Linked DNA regions of Homo sapiens. The protein of the gene in region 1 interacts with the protein of each later gene in a pairwise test. Each region holds a gene or a part of one and is shown in the gene's direction. Other genes may lie near its edges.

Region 1 (7,038 bases):
ATGGTGAAACCCTGTCTCTACTAAAATACAAAAAATTAGCCAGGTATGGCAGCATGCACCTGTAGAATTGCTAGAACCCAGGAGATGGAGGTTGCAGCGAGCCAAGATCGCACCACTGCACTCCAGCCTGGGCAACAGAGCGAGACTCTTGTCTCTAAAAAAAAAAAAACGTGGGTTGATTACTGGGGGAACTCAGTTATCTTCCTATGTCTCTGATTGTGCCCTTTGAGGTTACATTTTCTCTGGGCATCAACCACACCTAATTAAATAGGACACCAAAAGCTGCTACTTTACTTAATATACATCAAAGAGACAGTAGCAGCTTTAACACATAGATGCCACTTCCTGCTTTCACATGCATTCCTATCTTGAAAGTTGAACAGGATTTTAACAGAGCCCCAATATCTGGAGTAATGCTGCTCTTGTAGAATAGTTGTTACATTTACATCCAGAAACATAGGGCGTTATGGCACAGGGCGTGTCCTGAGCATTCAGATGATGCAGAGCCACGGCTGTTGTGTACATGTGTGTTGGAACCACTGAGAAAGATGTGTTGCTTTTGTTCCCTGTAGTAGATTTTCCAACACCAAAGACTGAGCTGGTCCAGAAGTTCCACGTGCAGTACTTGGGCATGTTACCTGTAGACAAACCAGTCGGTATGTGAAATGTTTATTGTCTTTCCACTTTGCAAGTGTGCGGGAGCTCACAGGAGGCGTTCGCCCTCCGAGGAGGGTGAGGTCTGCTGTTTACTCTCACGCCTTGTCTTGAATCAAACTGTCACACTGTCACCTGCCAGAGAACATAAACGGTCCTGATCAAAAGATGAGTAGAGGGACAGGCCCCGCTGCTTTGACCTGTCATCCCCAGCATGCAGGACTTTAGCAATACAGACGTGGATTTCTTGTTTACCCAGTAGTCCAGAGCTGTGTGACTCAGGGCCGTGGAAGAGCTCCGCTGCTCTGAAACGAGGCCTCCATCTCTGAGGCCAGGGCACCTGCTTCGTGTCTTGTCAGCTGGCGGGCCAGGAGAAAGGACTGTGGAGGCTTCATGCTGTCAAGGAGTGACACAGTAGTGGCACACACAGCATTCAGCTCACATGCCAGGGGCAGAGTGTAGTTGCTGGGCTATACCAAGCCAAAAAGAGACTGGGAGATGAAGCCTTCACCAGGGCTAAAAAAGGCTGTGGAGAAATCGCAAGCTACATATACTGCCAAGGGGGCTGTAAGATGGTGCAGCTGCTTTGGAAAACAGTCTGGCATTCTTCAGAAGGTGAAACATAGTTACTTTAGACCCAGCAACTCAGTTCCTAGGCGTAGACCCAAGAGAAGTGAAAACGTTTGTGCATGCAAAAACGTGTATGCAAATGTTCACAGCAGAATTATTGATGAGAGTCAAAAAGCGAAACAACCTGAATGTCCTGACAAATCAACTGACAATTAGATAAATAAGATGTGATACTTCCATACAGTGGAATTTTATTTGGCAATAAAAAGGAATGAAGGACTGAAGTGCGCTGTAGCGTGGATGAAGCCTGAAAACATGCTATGAGGGAAGTCAGTCCCAAAAGACTGCATACTGTGTGATTACGTTCATATGAAACGCCCAAAATAGGCAGAGCTCTAGCGTCAGAAAGTAGGTAAGGGTTGCCTTGGTCTAGGGGTCTGGGGAGTGGGGGAAAAATGCAGAATGACCCCTACCAGGCACGGGGTTTCTCTTTGGGGTGATGAAACTGTTCTAAAATTGATTATGGTAGGTCTAGCATGGTGGCTCACACCTGTAATCTCAGCACTTTGGGAAGCCAAGGCAGGTGGATTGCTTGAGCCCAGAAGTTCAAGACCAGCCCAGGCAACATGGCAAAACCTCATCTCTACAAAAAAAATTCAAAAAATTAGCTGGGCATGGTGGCATGTACCTGTAGTCCCAGCTACTCCAGAGGCCGAGGTGGGAGGATCATCTGAGCCTGGGAGGCTGAGGCTACAGTGAGCCGTGATTGTACCACTGCACTCCAGCCTGGGTGACAGAGCAACACCCTGTCTCAAAAAAAAATTGATGATGGTGATGGGTGCGCTCTGTGAATGTACTAAAATCCACTGGATTGCACACTTTACGTGAGTGAATTGCATGTGAATGATACCTCAATAAAGCTGTCACTCCCACCCCTATCCCCCAGAAAAACTGTGGAAACAGCTGGCAAAAGGGCCCTACTCAATGGGGGGATCCACTGTAAAGGTGCCATCAAGAGACAGTGAGGGTGGAGAGAGGCTGAAGGGCCATGGTCTGCATAGGTAGACAGCGTCTAAGGCACCAGGTCCCCGGAGCTTCTCCTGACTCTCCTCTCCTACTGAAAAGGCTGTTATTTCTTTTTTTTCTTTTTCTTTTTTTGTTTTTTGAGACAGAGTCTCACTGATACTTGCCCAGGCTGGAGTGCAGTGGTGCGATCTCAGCTCACTGCAGCCTCCGCCTCCTGGGTTCAAGCAAGCATGTCCAGCTAATTTTTGTATTTTTAGTAGAGACAGGGTTTCACCGTGTTGGCCAGGCTGGTCTCGAACTCCTGACCTCAAATGATCCTGGCTCAGCCTCCCAAAGTGCTGAGATTACAGGCGTGAGCCACTACGCCCGGCCAGAAGCTGGTATTTCATTCCTGTTGAGCAAACATGAGAATGAAGTGTCCTGTCTATTAAAAAAAGATCAGTCTGGGCGTAGCTGTTATTGGTGATTTGGGCCCACATTTGAGTGTGGTAAGTGGCTTTAGGACACTTTAAATTATCCTTTTCTGTCCCCAGGAATGGATATTTTGAACAGTGCCATAGAAAATCTTATGACCTCATCCAACAAGGAGGACTGGCTGTCAGTGAACATGAACGTGGCTGATGCCACTGTGACTGTCATCAGTGAAAAGGTGAGAAGGAATCTTCGATGACATTGGTGTGTCTTATACAGTGAGTATAAGATACAGTGGTTTTCTGTGGAACTTAGGAACATAGTCAAGGCCGGAGTTGTGCATCCTTGTGATTAAGATGGCCTACATTTGAAAGATTTGGCCCTTTGTCTGGGTCTAAATCTGTGCATACCTCTGTTTTCCTGTGGCCTGAGAAACTTCTCTTCTGGTGCTTCTGATTCTGTCTTCCTCATGTGCCCCAGAGAGAAATTGTTTGCTAGAGGTGAGTGTGTGACGCTAGTAGTCGCTCACTCTCAGGGCGCCAGTATTGCCTGGGCTGTGTGATCTGGGGATGAAAAGCAGAAGATGCTTCCATTTGGGAGAGTCCTGTGACTATCAGTAGCAGAAGGAGCTATTGGTTGTCTTGAGAAGAGGCCACATTAGCCTCAGCCCAAATTATCTCAGTTTCGTGGTTGAAGAAATTGAAGCACAGAGAGGCTAAGTCATTTGCCCAGCATCACACAGTTGGAAGCAATGGAATCAGGACTTAAATCCAGGCAACCTGGCCCAGACTTGTGCCCACTTTTCTATTCTGCCTCTGTGAAGCACCTGCCAGGGAAAGACCACCAGTCATCAGCCTGCCCCACAGCTGCCCGGTTCACCCTGGAGAGAGGAGCAGGGTGCTCACTGCCTGCCTCCAGCTGGCCACACTGAGCTCTCCTCACCTCTTCAAGTAGGTCCCGCCCTTCCCCACACCAGCATCATCGCAAGCACTGCACCCTCCATGCTCCACCCTCTGCCTACCCGACCCTTACCCAGATCACCACCACAGCCTCCTTCCTCCTGAGAAAACTTCCCGACCTCTCACACTAGTGTACTTTGCTCATTAAACACTCCCAAGGCACTAGAGTGAATATTTAATTAGTCAAGATGTTAATGATCCAAAAGTCAACATTTTGGATGTGTTTATTAATTCAAAACTTGCATATGGTTCTTGCAAAGGATGTGGTGTTCATCCCTATGAGAAAGAATTCTGAACATTTCTTTACGCTGCCTCATGTGGATCCCAGATGGACACCAGTTTGCAAGAGAGAAAAGAAAAAAACAATTTGACAACTTTTTGTTGATTTGGCAGCTTTTTGTTTTATATGGTTTTAGATGGAAATGTGATTCAGTGTGCTGTTTAGTTTGGGTAAGAATCACTGGACGAAGAAAGATACCGTGAATCCCTTTTTTCTGGTGCTCTGGGGGTTTACTTGGCCAAATGGGTTTTGGGCCACCAGGTGTCCTGTATTTGGGCTAGATGTAAGAAGTATGGACGGCACTGTCCCTCCCCACAGTGAACTCACAGCCACGTAGCATAATGGAGAATGGGACCCACATCACACCCCATGACAGCAGTGTAGTTCAGAGCAAGAATGACCTCCAGAACAGGGTAGCCATGCAGTGATGGCCTCTTCAGACATTTGGGCAAGGTTCCGCCTTTCGAGAAAAACACAGGTCCTTTCTGAATTCGGCCTGGCTATACTTTCTGAATGCCAGTTCCTATGTGCTGCCACTCTTAAGCTTGATCCTGGGATCTCCTGATTGGATGCCGCATAATGTCTCTTGCAGAATGAAGAGGAAGTCTTAGTGGAATGTCGTGTGCGATTCCTGTCCTTCATGGGTGTTGGGAAGGACGTCCACACATTTGCCTTCATCATGGACACGGGGAACCAGCGCTTTGAGTGCCACGTTTTCTGGTGCGAGCCTAATGCTGGTAACGTGTCTGAGGCGGTGCAGGCCGCCTGCATGGTGAGTTATCCCGGTACAGGCTGTTGAGCCCTCCCGCCTCTGCTCATCTCTAATATGCCATACATTATAGCAGAATCACTCACGGAAATGAAAAAAGTCGAATCCCTAAAGTAATGCTTTACTTTATAACGCCGTCATTCCTAGGGCCAGAATCAGTTATGATAAACAGATTACATCTCCAAAGGCCAGAACTCCTGAAAGAAGTGGGGCCAGATAGAGGCTCCGATGAGTTTCATAACCACCACCTTGACGACGGTCAATCCTTGATCCCAAATCAATTTCATGTGTGAAATGTTGGTCGTGTATGAGTTGGTACTGTTTGGGTTCAATTCAGTACTTTAAAAATCAATACATTGAATGACTTTTGTTTCCAGTGATTGGTTTCTGTACACCGTTCTTATATATTTTATTTATATCTGTTAACTCAGTCCTTCCGACAACTCTGTTAGGTAGTTGTTAGTTCTGTTTTATTTATGAGAAAATAGAGACTTTAGGGAAGTTAGAGAATGGGCCTCAGGGCTTGTCGGTAAGTGACAGAGCCGAGCCTGGATTCAGCCCCAAGCTGCCAGGTGACAAAGTCAGAGCTCTTTATACCACATGGATACTTGGAAACAAACAAGAATCCCTCATTATTCCTTCAGCATGTGTCTTTGTGCCCCTCTTATGCCAGACACTGCAAAAGTTCTAATAAAAATGAGGGAACTGGGCCGGGGGTGGTGGCTTACGCCTGTAATCCCAACACTCTGGGAGGCTGAGGCAGGCGGATCACTTGAGGTCAGAAGTTCAAGACCAGCCTGACCAAATGGAGAAGCCCTGTCTCTACTAAAAATACAAAATTAGCCAGCGTGGTGGCGCATCCCTGTAATCCCAGCTACTCGGGAGGCTGAGGCAGGAGAATCACTTGAACCTGAGAGGCAGAGGTTGCAGTGAACCGAGATCGCGTCATTGCACTCCAGCCTGGGCAACAAGAGGGAAACCCATCTCAAAAAAAAATGAGGGAGCTATATGAGTGTGGGCACCAAAGCCTGTGGGCAGGTGTGTTCCAGCAGCAGCAGGTTGGGTGCTGGGCCCGAGTGGAAGGAGGTGCGGTCCAGATCATGGCGGGCTTATGATGATGGCGTGTGGGGGCCTGATTTTCTTCAGCAAGGATTGCTAAACTGGGGATTGAATTGATTGTATTTAGATTATTTATTTATTTATTTATTGAGATGAAGTTTTGCTTTTGTTGCCCAGGCTGGAGTGCAATGGCGCGATCTCAGCTCACTGCAACCTTCGCCTCCTGGGTTTAAGTGATTCTCTTGCCTCAGCCTCCCAAATAGCTGGGATTACAGGCACCTGCCACCACGCCTGGCTAATTTTTTATATTTTTAGTAGAGATGGGGCTTCATCATGTTGGCCAGGCTGGTCTCAAACTCCTGACCTCAGGTAATCCACCCGCCTCAGCCTCCCAAGTGCTGGGATTACCGGCATGAGCCACCGCACCCAGCCTGTATTTAGATTTTAGACGAGTATCCAGCAAAAAAAGAAGACAACCAAGTAGAGGATAGGTTGGAGGAACAAGGCTGAGGTGGCGATCAGCCAGGAGCCCAGTTACCTTCTGCAGATGGGAGAGAGGAGGAGCGTCCACGCTAGGAGAGCAGCGTTGGGAACAAACAGGAGCAGAGGCTTTGAGAAGCACCGAGCTGCCTGGCTGGGGGAGAACTGCTGCATGTGAAGCCCCTGGGCTTCATTTAATTCAGCCTCGCACTTACGGGCTGGAATCTGGGGCATTCAGCATGACTGAGATACAGTCCTTGCATTGTAGAGCTCAGGTATAGTGGGGGAGACACAGAAACCTAAACTCTGTTACAGTGTAGAAAGTGCTGTAAATAAAAGTATGAGGATCTTCACTTTCAGCCGGGCGTGGTGGCACATGCCTGTAGTCCCAGCTTCTGAGGAGGCTAAGGTGGGAGGATGGCTCAAACCCAGGAGGTCGAGGTGCAGTGAGCTACGATGGCACCACTGTAGTCCAGCCTGGGTGACAGAGCGAGACCCTGTCTCAAAAAAATAAATAAGAAAAATAAGTATGAGACTGTGCTGGATTGAGAAGTAACTGGGAAGAAAAAGAAGTGGAGGCCCTAAAAGCAGATAACTTACAAAGTTTGCCAGTGAGGGGGAGCTTGAAGGGCAGCATTGGAGGGTTTGTTCATGTGTTTATTTCAGGACAGGAGAGGCCTGCCCCTTTTTTATTCTTTATTTTTATTTTATTTTATTTTTTTTAAGAGATGGGATCTTGCTATATTCCCCAGGTTGGTCTTGAACTCCTCCCTGGAACGGCAGGGGAGCACCACCATGCCCAGCTAGGTTTTCTTTTGTGGAAAATGGAG
Region 2 (7,382 bases), on another chromosome or scaffold:
GGCTCCCTTTTCACTTTTACTCCGGCACGACAGCTCCGAGTACACAGGATCTTTATTTTTTATTTTAACCCCTAAATGCAACCCCTCCCGAAAACAATGCAGACAAGAAAAATCGAATAAAATCAACTCGAGACCTTTTCGCTCACTCTCAGCCTCCCTCCCCATCTTGCTCCATTCTTTCTTGTCGCCCCTGCTCCCTCCTACTTCAGCCCCCCTCCTCAACTCAAATGTATTCTGGACACTATTTAATAGATGAGTGTCTTGCAAGTAAACTCAGGCGTCCCTTGGGTCTGCATTTCATGTCTGTGACTCTCTCCCTTTCTCTCCTGTGGACTGAAAATTCGGATTTAAACCACTAGACAAGCTATTAATTTAGCTAGGCTACCCAGGGTCCTGAACCCAATTAATTTCTAATAATTATAGCCCAAGGGGGCTAGATAGATCTCCCTGCCTCTTTCTTTTATTGCCACTCCACGCCACCGAGGTCAGCGTATAATAAAGTGTGTATTTTGAAAGCGATCTCCAGAACAGTGAGTTATTGCAATGAATGAAAATTGTTTCCATTTTGGCTAATTGAGCCGGTGGCCGAAAGCTGGAGCCCTGAGACTAAATAAAGAGGACTGTTTCATTTCAACATGAAGAAACCCCTGCCTAGCTCTGGTCACCCAGCGAGAGTTTAATTTCTTAACAGCCAACCTGAAACCCAGCATTGGGTAAACAGTATTAATAATTGCATTACAATGATTAAATTAATCTTGCTGGTAGCCAGGAGAATATAGGTTGTGATTGAATAGCATGATGTAAAGTTCACTGCACAAAGACAATAGGCCTCGAAATACCTCCATAAAGAATTCAAACTTTCTTCCAAAGATACCGTGGGGCCGGTTCAATTAAAATGAGAGGAAAGGAAAACTTCCTGTTGCATGTAATGTATTGAAAATCGGTTATTTGCCATTTCTAACATTAATTTAAAAAATATAGTTGGGGAAGGGATATACTTGTCTGTGTCTTTCTCATCAATGTCCCATTTTCCTTCTAACTTCTATCTCAATCTCTTCACTTCTGCTAAACAAACAAAAACACGAAACAAAAAGTGACAGCAATAAAACAAGCAAACCCAGACAGTCTGTAAACCCATCGACTTTCCAACGAGGCACTGCTTCCAGGATGCTCGCTTCCGTGGGAGAAAACACAAGGAAACGTTGGAATGCATGCTACTGTCCCCCAAGAAAACGAATTTCAGGAGGAGAGGGAAAGGCGAGAGGTGGGGTGGGGGCGGGTAGCTAGGGCAGCTCCGCCAACTTGTTGGAGGCCTCTTTTCTCTTGGGCCAGCGACAGCTCAGACATCCCGTCAGAGGGTGTCGGGAACTCTAGGGGCTGCTGAACAGTCACCTGCTCTGGTCTCACGGCTGGGACTGGGACAGGTGGAAGTGACAGGGTCCAGGCACTTGAGAATGGGAACCGGCCGGGGCGGACGCGCAGAGGTCGCGGCGCTATCAGCCGCGAGCGCGACCGGTTGCTGCTGGGTGTTTGCTCCATCAGGTTAAACACACTTGAACTAGCAACTTAGCTCTTTATTAGCGCACACTTAGGGCAGAAAGCTAATGATAAAGAAAGAAAAAGAAAAGGAGAGAAAAGGAAAAGAAGCCCAGCTTTTAGGTTTGAAAATAAAAAACGAATGATATTGAGAATACTTTTATTTATTTAAAAGACGATGTCTTGTCTTTTCACAATGGCTTGGTCTGGGGACAGAGAAGAGTTTGCGTTTATTATTTGTTAGAAGGGGTTGGATTTTCTCGTGGCCCGAAACTGTTAGAAAGACCAGGGAGAAAGCTGGAGCGCTGAAGCGACAGCGGAGACTTCAAACCAGAAGGGGAGGGGTACTCCAGCCGCGCCTCATTCCGCCTCCCACTCCGCCAACCCCCCTTCTAGAAAAGTTTAAAAGACGGGGACCTTTAAATTTGGAGGTTCGGAGACTCCGATTCACTTCAGTCTTCCACCTCCCACCCAGTTCCCCTCACAGAACCCACCCCCTACCTCCCCAACCCTCCACGTGGTTTATAATTTCTCAGCAGCAACAGCAAGCTCAGCTTCACATGTGGGTCTTGCATTTAATCTCAGAGTTTGGTACCTTGGTCCCCTCCTTTCCTAGGAACATTTCTTGCACCCCTCTTAACCTCCCGTCTCCAAGGGAACCTAGACATAGACAGACCCCCTGGGGATGAGGTGAAAGGGATTAGCCGGAGGAGTGGAGGGGAGGATGGCGGTTCTTTTCTTTTTTCTTTTCTTCTCTTTCTTTTTTTTTTTTAAGCTACCTTGGCGGTTGGGCACCAAGGCAAGGTGCTCAGCCACCCCTGGGGTGCCTGGCAGGGAAGGTGAGGATTGGAGGGACAAGACCTAGATTTTGACAGCTGGGATCTTCAGGTGCTGCTGGTCTGTCCCCTGGCCTAGGGGATGGTCCCTAGAGAGTCTCTTACACCGATCAGAAGCAGCCTTATGAACTTCTTGCCAGTCAGCCTAGTGTTTGTCTCTCCCTAGAGATTTTGTCCCCCCTTCCAAAGCCTCTCAAGACCCATTTCTCCGTTTCCTCGGAGGACATTTGCTGGTCAGAGGGTAGGCACCTCTCCATCTAAACTGAGGGAAGCTGGTGGAGTCACATTTTGGGGGAAGTTTCAGAGTCAAAGACCTGTGTGAACCTAACAGAATGTTGGAATGGCTGGTGCTTTTGCACACACCAAATGTGTTAGCACACTCACCTTTATGCACAGGACAGCGGGAATTCTAGGTCTGGAAAAAAACCCAGGTGCCTCTTTAATTCAGAGTGGATAATAGAGTTCTCTTGTGCCCACGCGTGTGGGCACTAGAGCCTTCTCTTTTGGAAGTTGTTTTACTCCTGTTGTGAGTAATTCCCTCCTTTACCTTCCTACTTCCCTTCCTCACATTTCAACCTTATACATCTGTCTCCCTTGAGACCTGTAGCTTGGTTCTCCAGGGACCTCTATCTTACAGCCAAATGCCCCCAGAATTACACAGCTCTGGATAAAGGAAAATGGTAGGCATCCTTAACAAGGACAAATTCTTTGAACTTTGATTCTCTTGAATAAAGAGATTTGCAGGCCATTGATACCCTTTGGGGTTGAACCTTGTTATTTGCTCTCTCATGTCTGCAGTCCTAGATTTGATAATAAATACCAACAGGTACGACTGGGCATTCTCAATGATTCCCCTTTCCCTCCACAGCCTTTGCCAAACTCATGCCCAGGACCTGCTTTTCTTTTCCTTTAACTTGAACATCAAGGATGTATTGTTGCAGCACGGAGACTGAAAAGATTGTAATTTTCTTTTATGGTGTCTGGCAGGATTTGCAACAGATATTAATGGGGACATAAATAGCACATGGAAGGTATTGAACAAAACTGTTTAATGCAAGAAGGTTGTACCAAAAGAAAATCTATACCTAGTTGGGATTGATTCATACCTTGTACACAGCTAGCCCCTTTAGGAATTCCCATTTCTGAGTGGCACTTCATTGGTAAATCCTGTAATTAAAGGAAATTTCAACAATGTATTTTTTTAAGAGTGTGTGATTTTCCTCCCTACTCCTCTTTCTTTTGACCCCGAGGTTGTAGGTTTAAGCGAGTGAGTGAAAATGGCAGGCAAGCAGAGCTGCATCGGGAGGCGACCGGGGCAGCAGTGGGGGAGGCCGGAAGGTGACAGCCGACCTCTGAGAAAGCAGGAGGTCTTTGGATGTCAAATGCCAGCGCCGGCCCGGACCCGGGAATCAAGGGTGATCATTACTACTTGGTAGGGAAAGAATACTGAAATGTCCCAAGGATGGCAGCAAGCATTGGTATTACAGCTAAAATCGAGGAAAAAACCAGTTATTTATTCTGCTTACAACCCTGAAAGCGGAAGCTGCAATAGCTTCAGTAGCAGTAGCAGCGGCAGCAGTAGATTTCTCAAGTTCAGGATGATTCTCACTTTCTCCTGGATTATTAGCCGAGGGTCCAGCCCTTCTAGTTCTTTAACAGGAGAAGGGTTTTTAAAAAATGTTTTTAAAGTTTTTTTCCCCCCTGGCTTCTTGCTTCCCTCGTAGATGGTATAGAAAAATGTCTGCAATTTATGGTGGGAAAAACAATAACAATAATCATGATACAAGCTTGTTGGCGATTCTAACATGGAATCAATCCTCTGCCCAAGCCTTTTCAATTCCCCCCTCCCCTTTTTTTGGGCGAGGTGTCTGCTCCCCTCTGGCTCCCTGCGTTCGCTCCCCGCCCCCCGCCGCCCTCCCCGCGGCTCCCTTTCTCCGCCTCCTCGGCGATTGCCATCTGACAAGATCTCCAAATCAAAGTGATAAATCGCTCCAAACTTTTTTTGGCGGCGCTGAGATGTTGGAGGGGCGTCTAGCGCGCATGTGCGAAGGTGTCCAAACTGACAATGCTGGAGAGATAGCGAGTGTGGATTGAGAGAAAGGGAGAGAGGGAGGGAGAGAGAGTGAAAGAAGAAAATACAGAGAGTGAGTGTGTGGAAGAGAGAGAGAAACAGGAGAGAAACAGGAGGGAGGGAGAGAGAGAGAGAGAGAGAGAGAGAGAGAGAGAGAGAGAGAGAGAGAGAGAGAGACAGGAGAGAGAGGGAGGGAGCGAGAGGGAGAGCAAAAGAAGGAAAGGATCCAAGAAAAAAAAGCCCCAACCACACACCAGCGGCTGCAGGACTGGGCACAGCATGAGATCCAAAGGCAGGGCAAGGAAACTGGCCACAAGTAGGTGCAATATCCCTTTTCTATTGGCTTTTCCCCCTCCTCTGCCATCTTGCATATCTGTCTCTAGCGCTCCGGGAGGGAGCGCGGGCTGCCTCTTGCGCCGGGGCCCCGGGTGGAGGGCAGGCGGAGCGCAGCCCCAGCAACCTGCCGGTTCCAGTCTCTGCTCCCGGTCGCCCGCGCTCTCGCTCCCGGGTTGGGCGCCGGAGGAGCCTGGGCAGCCCTCAGTCCCGCGCACCGACCAGCTGTGGCAACCCCGGGGTGGGGGTGGGGGTGGGGGCAGCAAAGACTAGGGGTGGGAGGGAGGAGAGAGCGCGAGAGTGAGCGCGAAGGGGTGGGGTGGGGGGGAAGAGAAGAGGAGAAAGTCTCCCCCTCCCCTCCCCTTCCCCCCAGGCGGGGGAGAGTTGCCTCTGGCCAACCAGCTAGTCCCGGGTGTGGGAGGAGGGGGGCGCGGGGGATGGGGGGCCGGCAGGAGAAGGGAGCCTTTTCGAGCCTCGGTTTGTTTCTGGGGTTTGGGTAGGGTAGGCGGCTCAGAGGGAGCCACAGTGGCGGCGGCGGCGGGCGGCTGTGGTGGACTTGGGAAAAGTTGCGAGGCGGCCGCTGGAAGTTGCGCGGGCGGGCGGGTGGACTGCGCCGAGCCGCGGCTGCGGTAGTGGGCGCTGTGCGCTCGGCCATGCTCTCCGGCGCGGCGCTGCGCGGCGGGAGGACTGCGGCGGGGAGTAGGGGACACCAAGGTGGGGGCTGTGATCGCGGGGTGGGGGCGGGGGCACGGGCAGAGCAGAGCTACCGGCTCCGCACAGCCACGCGCAGGTGGGGAGGAAAGAGGCCCAGCGAGCGCTCGGACGTGGGGAGAGAAGAGGCCCAGCGAGCGCTCGGAGAGCCGGGAGTGGAGGGCACACAGCCAGCGGCGGCAGCCTAGGAGCAGGAGGCAGAGAGGGCGCGCTGCGACCCGCGCACCTCGGGCTTGCTGGGCGCCGAGCAAACCCCAGGGGGCGGGCTGCCAGAGCGTTGGGCCGCGGAGAGGGCGCAGCGCAGCCTCCGGCGCTTCGTCTGGGTGCAGCCTGGGTCCAGGGTCAATAACCCTCCCCGGCGCCCCCTGCCTGCCCGGCGCGGAGCGGCCTTGGTCTGGCGGGATGTGGGCTAAGGGGTTTGGGGAGGGGGCGGTGGGAGTCCCATCCCCCACTCTTACAGCAAAAGTGTTGGATGACTCGCCTGGCTTTGCCGGCGGGGCCCACACTTTCCCACACGGTGTGATGCTCCGCCAGGACTGTAGACGACAGGACTGCGTTTGTCCAAATGCTTCTACTTCGAGTTGAAGGGGACTCAGGGACACTGAGCCCCGGAGCGGCTGGGAGCGCTCTTCCTTGAGGTGTCAATAGGCGGGGCTGGAGCTGCCTCGGGAGTGGACAGGCCGCGGTTCTCTCTCCCACACTCGCACTCGCCGAAAACAAAACTCTCTAATTGTGTTGTTTACGGAACGCAGAAATGAGAGATCGGAGATGGGTGGGATGCTTCTCCCCAGTGAAATCCCAGTCTCCCCCCGCGCGACCCTCGCACATTAGAACCAAATACGGTAGGTATCGTATCCACGCCTCCTTGCTCACTGCGTCCCTGCAGCAGCCCGGGAAGTCGGCGGCACCTCAGCAGGCTCGGCTTCGCGGGCATTGGAGTCGGCGGTGTAGCCCCGCGAGATGCTGTCATCCCAGGCGCCTTTCCAGTGCTTTGTGCAGTCCTCACCCAAGCACTCGTACACTCCCCGATACATTTCCTTTCCCCTGGGTCTGAGAAATCAACCTAAATATAGGGCTCTTTGGGTCATCAGTCCATCTGTTTCTCTTTTGGGTGTTGTTCTTTACACTCGCTGCTACAGTGTCAAAGGGCGCCGGTGGAACTGTTTTCCCTGTTTGCTTTTAAATGAGGCCGATGTCTTTATTTTCATCTGAAGGGAAATAAATGTACATATACTTGAGGTTTGCGGGCTTCGATTTGGACTAAAGGTTGGGAGAGAGAGAGAGTGTGTGTGTGGGGGGGGGAGTTGGCGGGAGTGGGATGGTGGGTGGGGGTGGGTAGCCCTTTTCAACCATGCCTAAGTTGTGAAGTGAAAGCTTAAGGCTTCGCGCCGCAACTCACTGCCCGATAACTTCTGAAGTGAAAGCAGAACACAAAACCCTTCGAATTTTCTTGAGCAACTTTTTCAACTATTTTAATTGCCAAGCAAGACATACGATGCCGTCTTAAAATATTCCCGCACGCACAGTCCACTCAGCATCCAGAAACTGAGCCTCGTTTCCGATCTGATGATACTTGTCATTCAACTGGTGGGAGACCCATTTATTTTGTCCCCAGGGTCTCTAAGGATGCCGCTGCCGCTTTCTGATAGCTAGATCTCAACTCTTACAAACTTTTACTGAGCCTCAGATTCCCGCTTGCACTACTCCAGCTGTTGCTGCCGCAGCTGCCTTTCCCAGACAGAAGCGCTGCGTTGCAATTCTTCAGTTACAATCTGGGTAATAAAGGAAATCATATTAAAACTACAGATTTTTGTATTTTAAAGCGCGATTTCCTTCCCCCGAGTAGCGCGTGGCGGAGATGGTTGGTGACCCCTGCGGTGCAATCATCCAACGAA
Region 3 (2,762 bases), on another chromosome or scaffold:
TCGGCTGCTACTCTTCACACCTCTTGTGACTGCCCTCTTTCAGGGAGAACTTGTAAAAGGGGAGCCAGTCCCAAGTCCGAAGGTATTATACAAAACAGTCCTTCGGGCTTCAGACTGATGGGAATGAATAATGCTTTGCCTAAGTGAGGGGAGTGCACTGAGTGGAGGGGTGGCTGGTGCCAGGATGAGCTAGCCAATCCCACGTGTGTGCTGACTGCAGCAGGACACTAGCCACGGCCCACCCCCAACCACTCTCGGACTCCAGCTCAGACTGTTTCCCCAGCTTTTCTCAGGGCTGTTTGGCTCACACAGTCCTGAAGGGCACTTCCCAAAGAGCACACTTAGGACCTCAGTAGGAGAACGTGGCTGATAAGACTCAGTGTGACCCACGTGTGTGACTCCCACATGCCCCACAGTGGTTGGTTGGCTCAGTCTGGTGAGGGCAGGTAGGGGCGTGGATCTCCAGGGAATGGCAGGGCCGGCACCCGGTTGTAGTGGGCCATGAGGAAGATGCCAGCTGTGCCACAGATGAAGAGCGAGAGCATGGCCAGGAAGCAGACGCGGTCCAGCACTCGGCCCACCAGGAACCACTCCTCATTCCCCTGAGGGTGGGAGGCAGGTGTGGGATAACCAGCGGCGGCACCAGGTCTTCCCTGGGTCCTGTTCTCATCCTTGGGCTTCCAGCAGGCCCATGTCTCCATTTCCTGGGGCCCTTCTTACCTATGTCCGGGTCCCAACTGGTGGCTAATTCCATGGCCCCCTGGCCCTGAGGTGCCCCCCCTGCCCCTGTTCCTTTTTCTTTCTTTCTTTCCTTTTTTTTTTTTTTGAGACGGAGTCTCACGTCTCACTCTTTCACCCAGGCCAGAGTGCAGTGGTGCGATCTTGGCTTGGCTCACTGCAACCTCCGCCTCCCAGGTTCAAGCAATTCTCCTGCCTCAGCCTCCTGAGTAGCTGGGAATACAGGTGCCCGCCACCACACCCAGCTAATTTTTGGTATTTTTGGTATTTTTGGTAGAGATAGGGTTTTGCCATGTTGGCCAGGCTGGTCTCAAACTCCTGACCTCAGGTGATCCACTCGCCTCGGCCTCCCAAAGTACTGGGATTACAGGTGTGACCCACTGCACCCGGCCTCATGTTTTTCCATCCCACTGCCCTATCTTGGCAACCCCACTCATCCTGTCTCTATCACGGTTCCAAGCCCAGGTACTCACTCCACCTCCACCCCACCCTGACTCAGCTTACATTGTCAAAGTGACTCTGCTGGTGCCGGGCACAGGCAATGAGGTTGCAGGCTTCCACACAGGCCTGGATGGCTGGGGCAGCCTGCTTCAGGCTGCCACAGAACTGGCTCAGCCCTAACTCCGGGCCTTTCTCTGATAAAGAGAAAGGGTAAGGTTTGGGAGTAGAATGGAGGAGAAACAGGCAGAGAAGATGGCCTCTCCTTAGGGACCCCAGCTCCTCTCTCCCTGACCTGGGCACTTCTCCAGCACTCATCTGCTGTGCCTGGCTCCCCAGCTGGGGTCCCAGGGGAGGACTGTCCCCAGGCACACCTGGTGTGTCTCACCTAGCTTCTCCAGCGCTGCCGCCACCAGCCCTTGCCGCTGCCACTGCTGGAAGAGGAGTTCACTGCGAGGCAGGCAGAGGGCCACCTCCTCCCCAGTTGTGATCGACCATCCCGAGGAGCCATTCTGTAGCCGGGACTGGGTGTCCTGCACAGCTGCCGGGGCCAGCGGGCGAACGTGCATCCTCAGCAGCTGGGGCAAGAGCCTCAGGAACACCTAGAGAGGGGGTGGCTTCACTAGGGCAGCAGGCCGAGCTTCAGAGCAGAAGCCAGAGGTTGGCGTGAAGGGCTTGTGCTGCTAGGGACCATGGAGGCAGCATACCGGGGCAGTGACGTGGCCTTGGTAAAGCTTTCTATACTGGACACGAGCCTGGGTCCCCAAACTTCAGTGCACATCAGAATCACCAGGGCACTTGTTATAAACACAGATTCCTGCCCCCAGCCCTCATGCTATTCTGGCCTAGAATGCCTGGGACAGGCCTGGGAATCTGCATGTGCAACAAGGGCCCAAGCTGAAGGCTGCAGGTGGGCTACAGATCACACAGACTGGAATCAGACTGCCCTGGCAGACTCCTGCTTTTTCGACTTTGTAGTGCACTTCCTTGGGCAGGTTACTTAACCTCTCTGCGCCTCAACGTCCTCATCTGTAATTGGAGGTGATATGGGTTTTATGAAGATGAAATACATTAACATTTGTAATATCCCGGGCACCTAGGAAGCAATTTCATTCCTGTATTACTGTAATCGATTTTGGTCCATGCGTCCAGATACGCCCAGGATGGGTGTGCTGTGGAATGCCACAGGTGAGTACTGCCGGGGCGTGCGAGAGGGAGGCGTAGGGGAGTGGGCAGCGGGATGTTGAAGTGGGCAGGGAGGGTCCTTGCCTTGCGGACCCCTCGGGCCATGGAGTGTGTGTGTGGAGACCGCAAGGAGACATTGAGCACAACCACAGCATTCACGACAATGAGGATGGTCACCACCAGGAGGAAGGTCAGGTACCTGTCAGGGTGGGGTGGGCAGGAGCTGGCAGCCCATACCATGATGCCACCCCCACGCTTAGTGGCTGCCCCCCCTCAGGCCTCCTGAATTGAGGATGGGGGGGGTGGATGGAGGGCAAGAGGGCAATGCAGGAGGCCATCATGCTCCCAAGAAGGGAGAGTGGCATAGGCGGGTGGACATGAAGACCAGCCTTACTTGCTGA

The links.
Region 2: the proteins of APBB2 (region 1) and MECOM interact in binary tests that used the Homo sapiens proteins (3 or more experiments, as listed by UniProt).
Region 3: the proteins of APBB2 (region 1) and TIGD1 interact in binary tests that used the Homo sapiens proteins (3 or more experiments, as listed by UniProt).

What each region holds. Positions count from the first base shown.
Region 1 is NC_000004.12:40,819,505-40,826,542, reverse strand, and holds part of APBB2 (amyloid beta precursor protein binding family B member 2), read left to right. Parts: intron 1-572; coding exon 573-656; intron 657-2,783; coding exon 2,784-2,899; intron 2,900-4,492; coding exon 4,493-4,672; intron 4,673-7,038. UniProt on the Homo sapiens protein: Plays a role in the maintenance of lens transparency, and may also play a role in muscle cell strength. Involved in hippocampal neurite branching and neuromuscular junction formation, as a result plays a role in spatial memory functioning.
Region 2 is NC_000003.12:169,660,713-169,668,094, reverse strand, and holds the start of MECOM (histone-lysine N-methyltransferase MECOM), read left to right. Parts: upstream 1-4,382; 5' UTR 4,383-4,722; coding exon 4,723-4,759; intron 4,760-6,932; exon of another isoform or gene 6,933-7,259; intron 7,260-7,382.
Region 3 is NC_000002.12:232,543,383-232,546,144, reverse strand, and holds the end of TIGD1 (tigger transposable element-derived protein 1), read left to right. Parts: 3' UTR 1-428; coding exon of another isoform or gene 429-602; 3' UTR 603-1,242; coding exon of another isoform or gene 1,243-1,373; 3' UTR 1,374-1,564; coding exon of another isoform or gene 1,565-1,778; 3' UTR 1,779-2,262; downstream 2,263-2,762. Other genes in the region: CHRNG (acetylcholine receptor subunit gamma precursor), read right to left, coding at 429-602, 1,243-1,373, 1,565-1,778, 2,446-2,560, 2,756-2,762.